Linked DNA regions of Homo sapiens: region 2 is linked to region 1. The links come from fine-mapping of genetic effects on gene expression. Tissue or cell type: whole blood. Region 1 holds a variant in brackets; the other region holds the start of a gene. All regions are shown on one strand. Distances are between the middles of the regions.

What was found. PIP is the estimated chance that this variant, and not a neighbour inherited with it, causes the effect.
Region 2: DEK starts here. The variant in region 1 is fine-mapped to the expression of DEK in whole blood (INTERVAL, PIP 0.96).

What each region holds. Positions count from the first base shown.
Region 1 is chr6:18,404,245-18,408,410 of GRCh38, reverse strand. All of the region lies in intron 2 of RNF144B (ring finger protein 144B), which reads right to left. Among named protein-coding and RNA genes, the nearest start is that of RNF144B, 19 kb to the right of the region's middle. The variant T/ACT (reference allele first, on the strand shown) is at 1,954.
Region 2 is chr6:18,262,154-18,266,319 of GRCh38, reverse strand. DEK (DEK proto-oncogene) reads left to right here and starts at 1,790. Exons shown (of 11, transcript NM_003472.4): 1 at 1,790-1,935; 2 at 2,324-2,477. The coding sequence starts at 2,333. LOC124901270 (a long non-coding RNA gene) reads right to left here and starts at 1,788. Exons shown (of 2, transcript XR_007059486.1): 1 at 1,243-1,788; 2 at 1-590. RefSeq lists silencers at 1,430-1,709, 1,750-2,109, 2,170-2,229 and an enhancer at 2,115-2,666.

The DNA.
Region 1 (4,166 bases):
ATCTTCCTTACCAAACTGAAACCTCCCATAGGAAAACAATTTGGCTGGTTAAAGTAATTGAGGATTCTCAGCTTAAAGAAGAGAAAATGATGAAGAAAAAGAAATCATGGTTTTAGAAAAATCTCAAGCTGGGTACAGTGGCTCACATCTGTAATCCCAGCACTTTGGGAGGCCAAGGCGGGAGGAACACTTGAGGTCAGGAGTTCCAGACCAGGCTGACCAACATGGTGAAACCCCATCTCTATTAAAAGTACAAAAATTAGCCGGGCATGGTGACAGGCACCTATAATCCCAGCTACTCAGGAGGCTAAGGCAGGAGAATCACTTGAACCCAGGAGGCAAAGGTCACAGTGAGCTGAGATCGCACCACTGTACTCCAGCCTGGGCAACAAAATGAGATTCTGTCTGGAAAAAAAAAAAAAAAAAGAAAAAGAAAGAAAGAAAAAGAAAAATTCCAAACCAAGCCACCATTTTTACAAATGAGGAAATTCTAGAGAAATAACTTGATTCGAGTCATAGAGTTATTGACAGAATTGGAACTAATAGCAGGCCTACTTATCTCACTACTAGATAGCTCACTATTTCCTACATTGGACTGAGCACTATAGGAGAATTTTTCATGAGTAATCTGACGTCCGCCCTCTAAAAAAAAGATAACCTTCATTCAAATAATATGCAGCTAGTGAGTAGAATTAGATTTCAACCAGGAATAGTAAAATTAGATTCTAACCAATTTTATTTTAGAGAGTGGAAGTAACGCTAATAGTTAGAATTTACATAGAAACCAGTTTCAAATGAATGTAGAGCAAAGATGGTTTCAATTTAGAAATTTCCAATAATTGAATAGTCAGTACTATGGTATGTCCCAATCCTGGAAATTATCAGTCAAAAGCTAGATAACCACACTAAAAAGAGTAGAGCTATATATGCTAGCTGTATTCTGGCAGTGTACTAAGTAATTTATCTAGATTATCTACTGTAATCTTCTATATAATCTTGTGAGATGATTTCTTATTATCCCTATATTACATGAAAGAAAATGACCCAATAGACTGCCCAAAGACATTAACCCCTACCATCTGCTGGTCCAGGCCACTATCATCTCTGGCCTGGATTATTACGTTTGCCTTCTAAGTAGTCTTCTTGCTTTCACCCTGGCCCCTGTAGTTTATTCTCTATGCATAAAGGTTAATTTTGTGTGTCATCTTGGCCACAGGATGCCTCCTATATGCCTCATTTCTGGGCATGTGTGTGTGTGTTTCTGGATAAGATCAGTGATATAGCTTGGCTCTGTGTCCCCACCCAAATCTCATCTTGAATTATAACCCCCAGATGTTGAGGGAGGGACCTGGTGGGAGGTGACTAGATTATAGGGGCAGTATCCCCCATGCTGTTCCCATGATAGTGAATTCTCACGAGATCTGGTTGTTTGATAAGTGTGGTGCTCTCTTTCTCGCCTGCTACTATGTAAGACGTGGCTGCTTCCCCTTCCACCATGATTGTAAGTTTCCTGAGGCCTCCCCATCCATGCAGAACTGTGAGTCAATTAAACCTCCTTCCTTTATAGATCTCAGGTATTCTTTATAGCAGTGTGAAAACAGACTAATACAATCAGCACTTGCATCGGTAAACTGAGTAAAGCAGTTTACCCTCCCCATTGCGAGCAGGCATCATCCAATCCATTAAGGGCCTAAAAAGAACAAAAGGAGGAAAGAATTCGTCTCCCTGCCTGACTGCCTGAGCTGGGACATCAGTTTTCTCCTGCCCTCGGACTGGGACTTATACCACTGGCTCTCTTAGTTCTCAAGCCTTCAGACTTGGACTGGAAATACACCACTGGTTCTCCTGGGTCTCCAGCTTGCAGAGAGAAGATCATGGGACTTAGCCTTCATCTCCTACTACTCCCCCTACACACACACACACACACACACACACACACACACACACACACAC[T/ACT]TTTCCAGCCACACCAGCCTCCTTTGCTGTAACAGGATACACCAAGCACACTCCCAACTTAAGACCTCCATACTGCTTCCCTCTGCCTACAACCCTCTTCTCCCAGATATCTGTATGGCTTGTTCCCCATTTCCTTCAGGTCTCTGCTCAAATAACACCTTATCACTGAGACTTCCCTGATCATCTAATAAAGTAGAAGTCCCTCTTCCCCACAGCACTCCTGACCCCCCTCACCCTATTTTTCCATAGCACAAACCATCACCTGACTTCTGTATTTACTTGTTAGCATCTATGTCTCATACGAAAAGTTGAGTTATTTGAAAACCAGGGCTTAATCTGATCGTTCACCACTATATTCAAACCATCAGAACTATGCAAGACACAGCAAATATTTGTTGAATAAATAAAGCCTAAGCTACCAAACTTGAGACCCATTCTCTTAAATGCCAAACCATACTGGCATCCCAGAAAATGACTTCTTTCATTAGGAGGGTGGGGGAACTAGAAGATCTAAGGTCACTTACAATTCTAGGACTATGATGCTATGACAAAGACATTAGGGCCTTAATAGTATGGTTTTCTTCTGCTGTTCTTTCCTCTCTTGCCACATTTTACTACTTTCCTTGAATAAGTAAGTGGTAAGCATTAGGCATGGATGAGATCATAGGTCCAGGAAGCCAGCTCCTCCTTGAGTCATCTCTAATCCATTTCTCATGCTGTTACTGTTTGCTCTTTTTCCACAGATGCCATCTGACCCTGCAGTGGCTCCGTTGTCAGTGGAAAAATATAGTGCCAATAAAATCGGCATTGTAAACCTGTGACTTGACCAATAAATACAAAAGTCACCATAGTATTGTCATTAAATCTCTTAATGGATATAAGCAGTGAGTATATTGAAGTTATTTCACAAACAAAGACAAATTCACTGATTTACTGCTAACCACCCCAAGCAAAGTTAAGGGAAAGCATAAAACTAACCTTGCGGCTGGGCACGGTGGCTCACGCCTATAATCCCAGCACTTTGGGAGGCCGAGGCAGGTGGATCACGAGGTCAGGAGTTCAAGACCAGCCTGACCTACATAGTGAAACCCCAACTCAACTAAAAATACAAAAAAAATTAGTCAGGCCTGGTGGCACATGCCTGTAATCCCAGCTACTCCGGAGGCTGAGGCAGGAGAACCACTTGAACCCGGGAGGCGGAAGTTACAGTGAGCCGAGATTGTGCCACTGCACTCCAGCCTGGGCAACAGAGCAAGACTCCATCTCAAAAATAATAATAACAATAATAATAATAATAATAATAATAAAGAAAAAAACTAACCTTGCAAGCAAGCATATTTAGGTACCAGAAACCAACAGAATAATACAGTGCTTTGAACTGGCAGAACTTAGTTCGGCCCATTTAATAGTAGTAGAAGACGTGGGAATCTGGAGCTGGAGAATTTGAAAGCTTTGGGAAAGGTTGGCAGGTCTCATGACCAGAAGAGGGGACAGAGAATCATTCTGTGGCATTGGCCTTGAGTAAGATCCCTCATTATTTCTTGTGGTTCCAGAGAATTCTCAATAAAAGGAACTTAAAATGATACTAGACTAACATATCAAGCCAACAAGTAATTATATTATTATGTTCTTGGAAGTAAGCAAGTTCTTAAATATGTGGTACTTTGAAACACCCTTTCATCTGAATCTTTTATATCCACCATAAATGTGCTCATCTATTTACTGTCAAAGTTGTATTGGCACTTTTTTTTCCCTGTTAAGTCCTAATTCTAGATATTTAGTTTAAATATTTCAAAGCCACACTTTGAACAAATCCAAAAGAGACATTTCTCTCTATCCTAACTGCTAATCTCTGAGTATCTCAGAATAGCAGTGAGGTTGTAATTACCTATATAACCACCTTTTTATAAAAGGCTAGTGAGGAAGCCAGTCAAATCATTATAGGCTTTCCTTTCTCTGAAATCTTTTTGAAGAACGTAACAGCTCAGCACACTGATGGATCTTAGGAAATAAAGGTAGGTATTGTCAACCCCTCCCTCCCTCCGTCTTACAGGCAAAGAAACTAAAGTCTAGAGAAGGCAAACAACTTGCCCCAAATCATACACCATCAAATGACAAAGCCTGAACTTGAGCCTGAGTCTTCTTATCTCCATATCTGCATTCTAACACACTATGCTATACTGCAAGGGAGAAACAGAGGTAGAAATAGGAAA
Region 2 (4,166 bases), 140 kb after region 1:
ACAAGTGCGAGAAAGAGGCTGGTGGGGCTGAGGGTGGCTCCGCGTGGGCCTGCAGGCACCCCTCAGCACAAACAGCCTGGGCGCCATGGATGACATGTTGATGGTGGGAGGCAGACACGTTCCTGGGGGGAAAGGGGTAGGTCCCTGCCCACCTTCAAGCCAGGGATGGCCTGAAGCCTGGGGGGCCTGGTGGCCAGTTCCAGGTAGAGTCTGCAGCCCAGAGTGAAAACTAGTGGTGCTTTTTCTGGGCCCACCCATGGGCCAATCAGCACACACTTCCTCCCTTCTGAGCCCATAAAAACCCCAGACTCAGCCAGCGCTCAGGCCTACCAGCTGCAGGAAGGAGCTACCCACTTTGGTCTCCTCAACTCGTCAGGACCACCTGCCTGCAGAAAGGAGCTGCCCACTATGGGTCTCCTCTCCACTGAGGGCAGGACGCTAGTCGGGACAACCCCCCTGCAGAAAGGAGCAACCCACTTCAGGTCTCAGGAGAGCTGTTCTGTCCCTCAGTGAAGCTCCTGTCCACCTTGCTCACCCTCCAGTTGTTTGCGTGCCTCACTCTTCCTGGACACAGGACCAGAACTCAGGACCTGCCAAATGGTAGGATTGAAAGAGCTGTAACACAAATAGGGGTGAAACACAACCCCCCACTCCCAACCACGTTGCAGGCAGCAAGAAGGAGAGATGAGCTGTGGAGTGTGGATAGGATTTGAGTGGGATAAATAGTGTGGAAAATGGCATACCGTTTGAGGGTAGAAATGACACTATTCGCGTATGTTTTGGAAGGGGAACAAAAGGAAAAGGGAAGATTCAAAGGAAATGTCTAATTTTTGTCCTGCAACCCAGAGTCCAGGCAAATTTCACTGATCACATTTCTATTAAGTCCACTGAGTACAAGGATCCTTCAGGTGAGCTAGTGGTTGAAGAGTTGGGAGAAAATAAAGGAAATCACATACAAAAGAAGGCAGCATTGAGCAGGGAAGATACTGCTTTGAGTGTCTGCAGTGTTGAATGTGTAAAAAGCATCTGCATAGATGACCTAGAACTCTGGGAGAAGGGTCTGGACCCGGCCAAATAACATATTTCCTCTATTATAAAACAGAGAGTGTGTGTGAGAGAGGAGAGGAGAAGGAATGGGGTGGGAGGGAGCCTCTCCCCTTATATTTACAGGGGTGTAAATCTATGTGGCTGGCTATGTGAACCTTTAACGTGGCAGGTAGGATCTTTTTCCTTTCGGTGCACCTTACAAGCGATGCGGTCCTCAGAAATACAGATTTGGGAGTTATCTATCACCCAGCATGATTTCTGGAGCATTGATGAGACCGCTGATTAATTCTCCTCCGCCTCAGAGTAACACTGTCGATAGCGACTTCGGAGATCTCTAAACTTCTTTACCGCGCCCGCCGCGCCCCTCCGCGGCCCGGGACTGCTCATCATCTTTTCCAGGAAGCGACCGTGGAAACAATAAACACGCAGGCCCCCTAGCGTCCTTCCGTTCCGCGCTGCCAGGCCGCCTCGCCTCCCGCTCCCGCCCGCCCCGCGGGACACAGCCCGCCCGCACTCCGGGGCCCGAGCGCCGACCACACTCCAGGCGCAGCCGGGGAGAGCCCCGCGCGCGCATCCCTCCGCCCGCGGCCGAGGCGACCCCTCGCGGTCCCGCCCGCCCGAGCTTCCCGCGGAGGCACCCGGCCGCCCCGCCTCCCCCGCCCCGCGCCCGCCAACTCCCAGCTCGCGGCCCTGATTGGTCGCCGCATTCCCGCTCTCCTTCCCGAACCGCCATTTTGAAAATCTTGTTGATTCTGGGGAGCCGAGCGCGCGGCGCGAGCGTCACGCCAGACAGCGGCCCGCGCGCCTTCTCCTCGGCGTCGGCCGCCGCCGCCTCCCAGAACCTCCTCGTGCCCTCGCGTGCCAGGCCCGCGGCGGCCGAAATCCGCGGTAAGGGCTGCTTCGGGACGCCGGAGGCCCGGTCGCCCCTGCCGCGGCCGACGGGGGAGGGACGCGGCCATTTGGACGGCGGCCTGGGGCGGGGGAGGGGACGTGGAGGGCCGGCAGCTCGGGCCGGGCCGGGAACAGCGCAGGCCGGGCGGGCGCGCGCGCACGCGGGGCAGCGGGCGCGGTTTCCCGCCTCGGGAATCCCTGGACGGCGGCGGCGGAGCGGGAGGGAAGCCGCCCCTGGGGACTGAGCGCTGCGGTCCCGGCTATGGGAGGAGGCAACTTTCAGGGCAGGTGTCCCGCGGGAAGGGTAGCATCATTCAGGGTGGCCGCCCGGTCCTGCCTGCGGGAGTAGGAGGACCGAGACGTCCGGCTTTCTTCCCGCATGCAGGTTCACAGCATGTCCGCCTCGGCCCCTGCTGCGGAGGGGGAGGGAACCCCCACCCAGCCCGCGTCCGAGAAAGAACCCGAAATGCCCGGTCCCAGAGAGGAGAGCGAGGAGGAAGAGGACGAGGACGACGAGGAGGAGGAGGAGGAGGAAAAAGGTGGGGGGAGTCGCATCCCAACTGATGAATTTTTCAGACCGAAGTTTTTTTGTATTTTTCACCCAGGAAACAGTTTTCTTGCTCTTTTGGTGTTTAGAGGCGTGAAGTCGGAGTGATTTTCAGCGAGAATGTGTGCACAATTTATCTGCTTTTGTTTTGAGCGATGGCGTAGAATTGACTTTGTGTATTCCGGTTTTTAAAGTATTTGTTAGCGTGGTAGAGATGTATTGGAGTGCAGCCGACTTCTCGTCCGCTCTAAACGTTCGTTAACATTTCATCATTTGACGGGAAGTTTGTAGGTCTTGGATTTGATTTTTTTTTTTACCTGTGTGTGTGCACCTTTGAAGTTGCTAAGTGGATGTTCTAATTTTGTCCTTTTCATTACACATCTTTTGCCTTTTGAAGTTATTGTAAGGTCTTGGTGCAGCCCGTTAAGACTGAAGTTATAAGGCTAGACCCGGAAGTATTTGAATACTTTCGAATATTTTTACATTTACCAAAAAGTTTCCCTCCCTGGCAAACAGCGGTGAAAGCTGTTGCTACTTGAGAAAGTAGTTAAAAATGAAGAAAGTGAACTCTGAAAGAAAGTTAAATGTGAGCCCAGCACTGTCTCGGTTTCGAACCTGTGTCTGTTTTAAGGGAGGGCGATATGAGCCCTGATTTGACTGGAGGTGTGAAACGGAAACTTGACTGAATAGAGGAGTGTGCTGCGGCAGTTTATCCAGGATGCATGCAGTGTCTGTTTCAGGTGTACCCGCTTCTTGACATGTTTCCAAACATTTAAAAATCCGAGTCGCATCTCTTAGCATTCTTTGATATTAGCTTAGTCTGCGGTTATTTCGTATATGTTTACGACTCAGCCACACTTGGGAAGAGGTTGAAGCGCTCTTCCTAAACCCGGATTTTTTTTAAGCCTCAACCAGCCTGTGGTCACAATCTGGGTTAAGATTACAAGGTGTGCCTTTTGTTTGTTTAAAGTGGTATGTGCCCTAAGAAGGGCATATTTAAGTAAAGCATGGCTTTTTAAATATAAGTTTTCACATAAACTATTGCTTAACAACATGTTATTTTAAAATTATTTTTAATACAACAACAAAATTGGCTGCACTATCTCGCTGCTAGCCAAAGAGGCTCTGCACTTTTTCTCCAATTTTTTGTTTGTATTTTGGTCTTCTGGTGGGGGCAGGGTTGAGATGCCAAAGAAATGGTGAATTTTCTTCATGTCAGGAAAAAATTAGAGAAGTCATGTAAATATACTGTAAGTGGCCAACACAGTAATGCTTGGGGAAGAGTTGGTAGTTGAAAGAATCCCATGTTTTGTTCTAGACAAATTATTTTTAAAAACATGATGTTGTAGAAATTTTATCCCCTAATAGTTTTATTGTAGCTGTGATTTATTATTCTTTTTACTAATTTGAGGTGTTTGTGGGACAAGTAGAATTGTGAAAGTTTTTATTTTACTTAACCCTGAATATTTAACTTTAGAACTGAGGCATCATGGAAGCCAGACAGTGAAATACTTTCTGTATTAGGCTTTTTTTTTTTTTTGCGTTACTATAAAGAAACACTTGAGGCAGGGTAGTTTATAAAGAAAATAGGTTTTATTGATTCGTGGTTCTGCAGACAGTACAAGAAGCATGGCGCCAGTATTTGCTTCTGGTGAAAGCCTCAGGAAACTTCCAATCATGG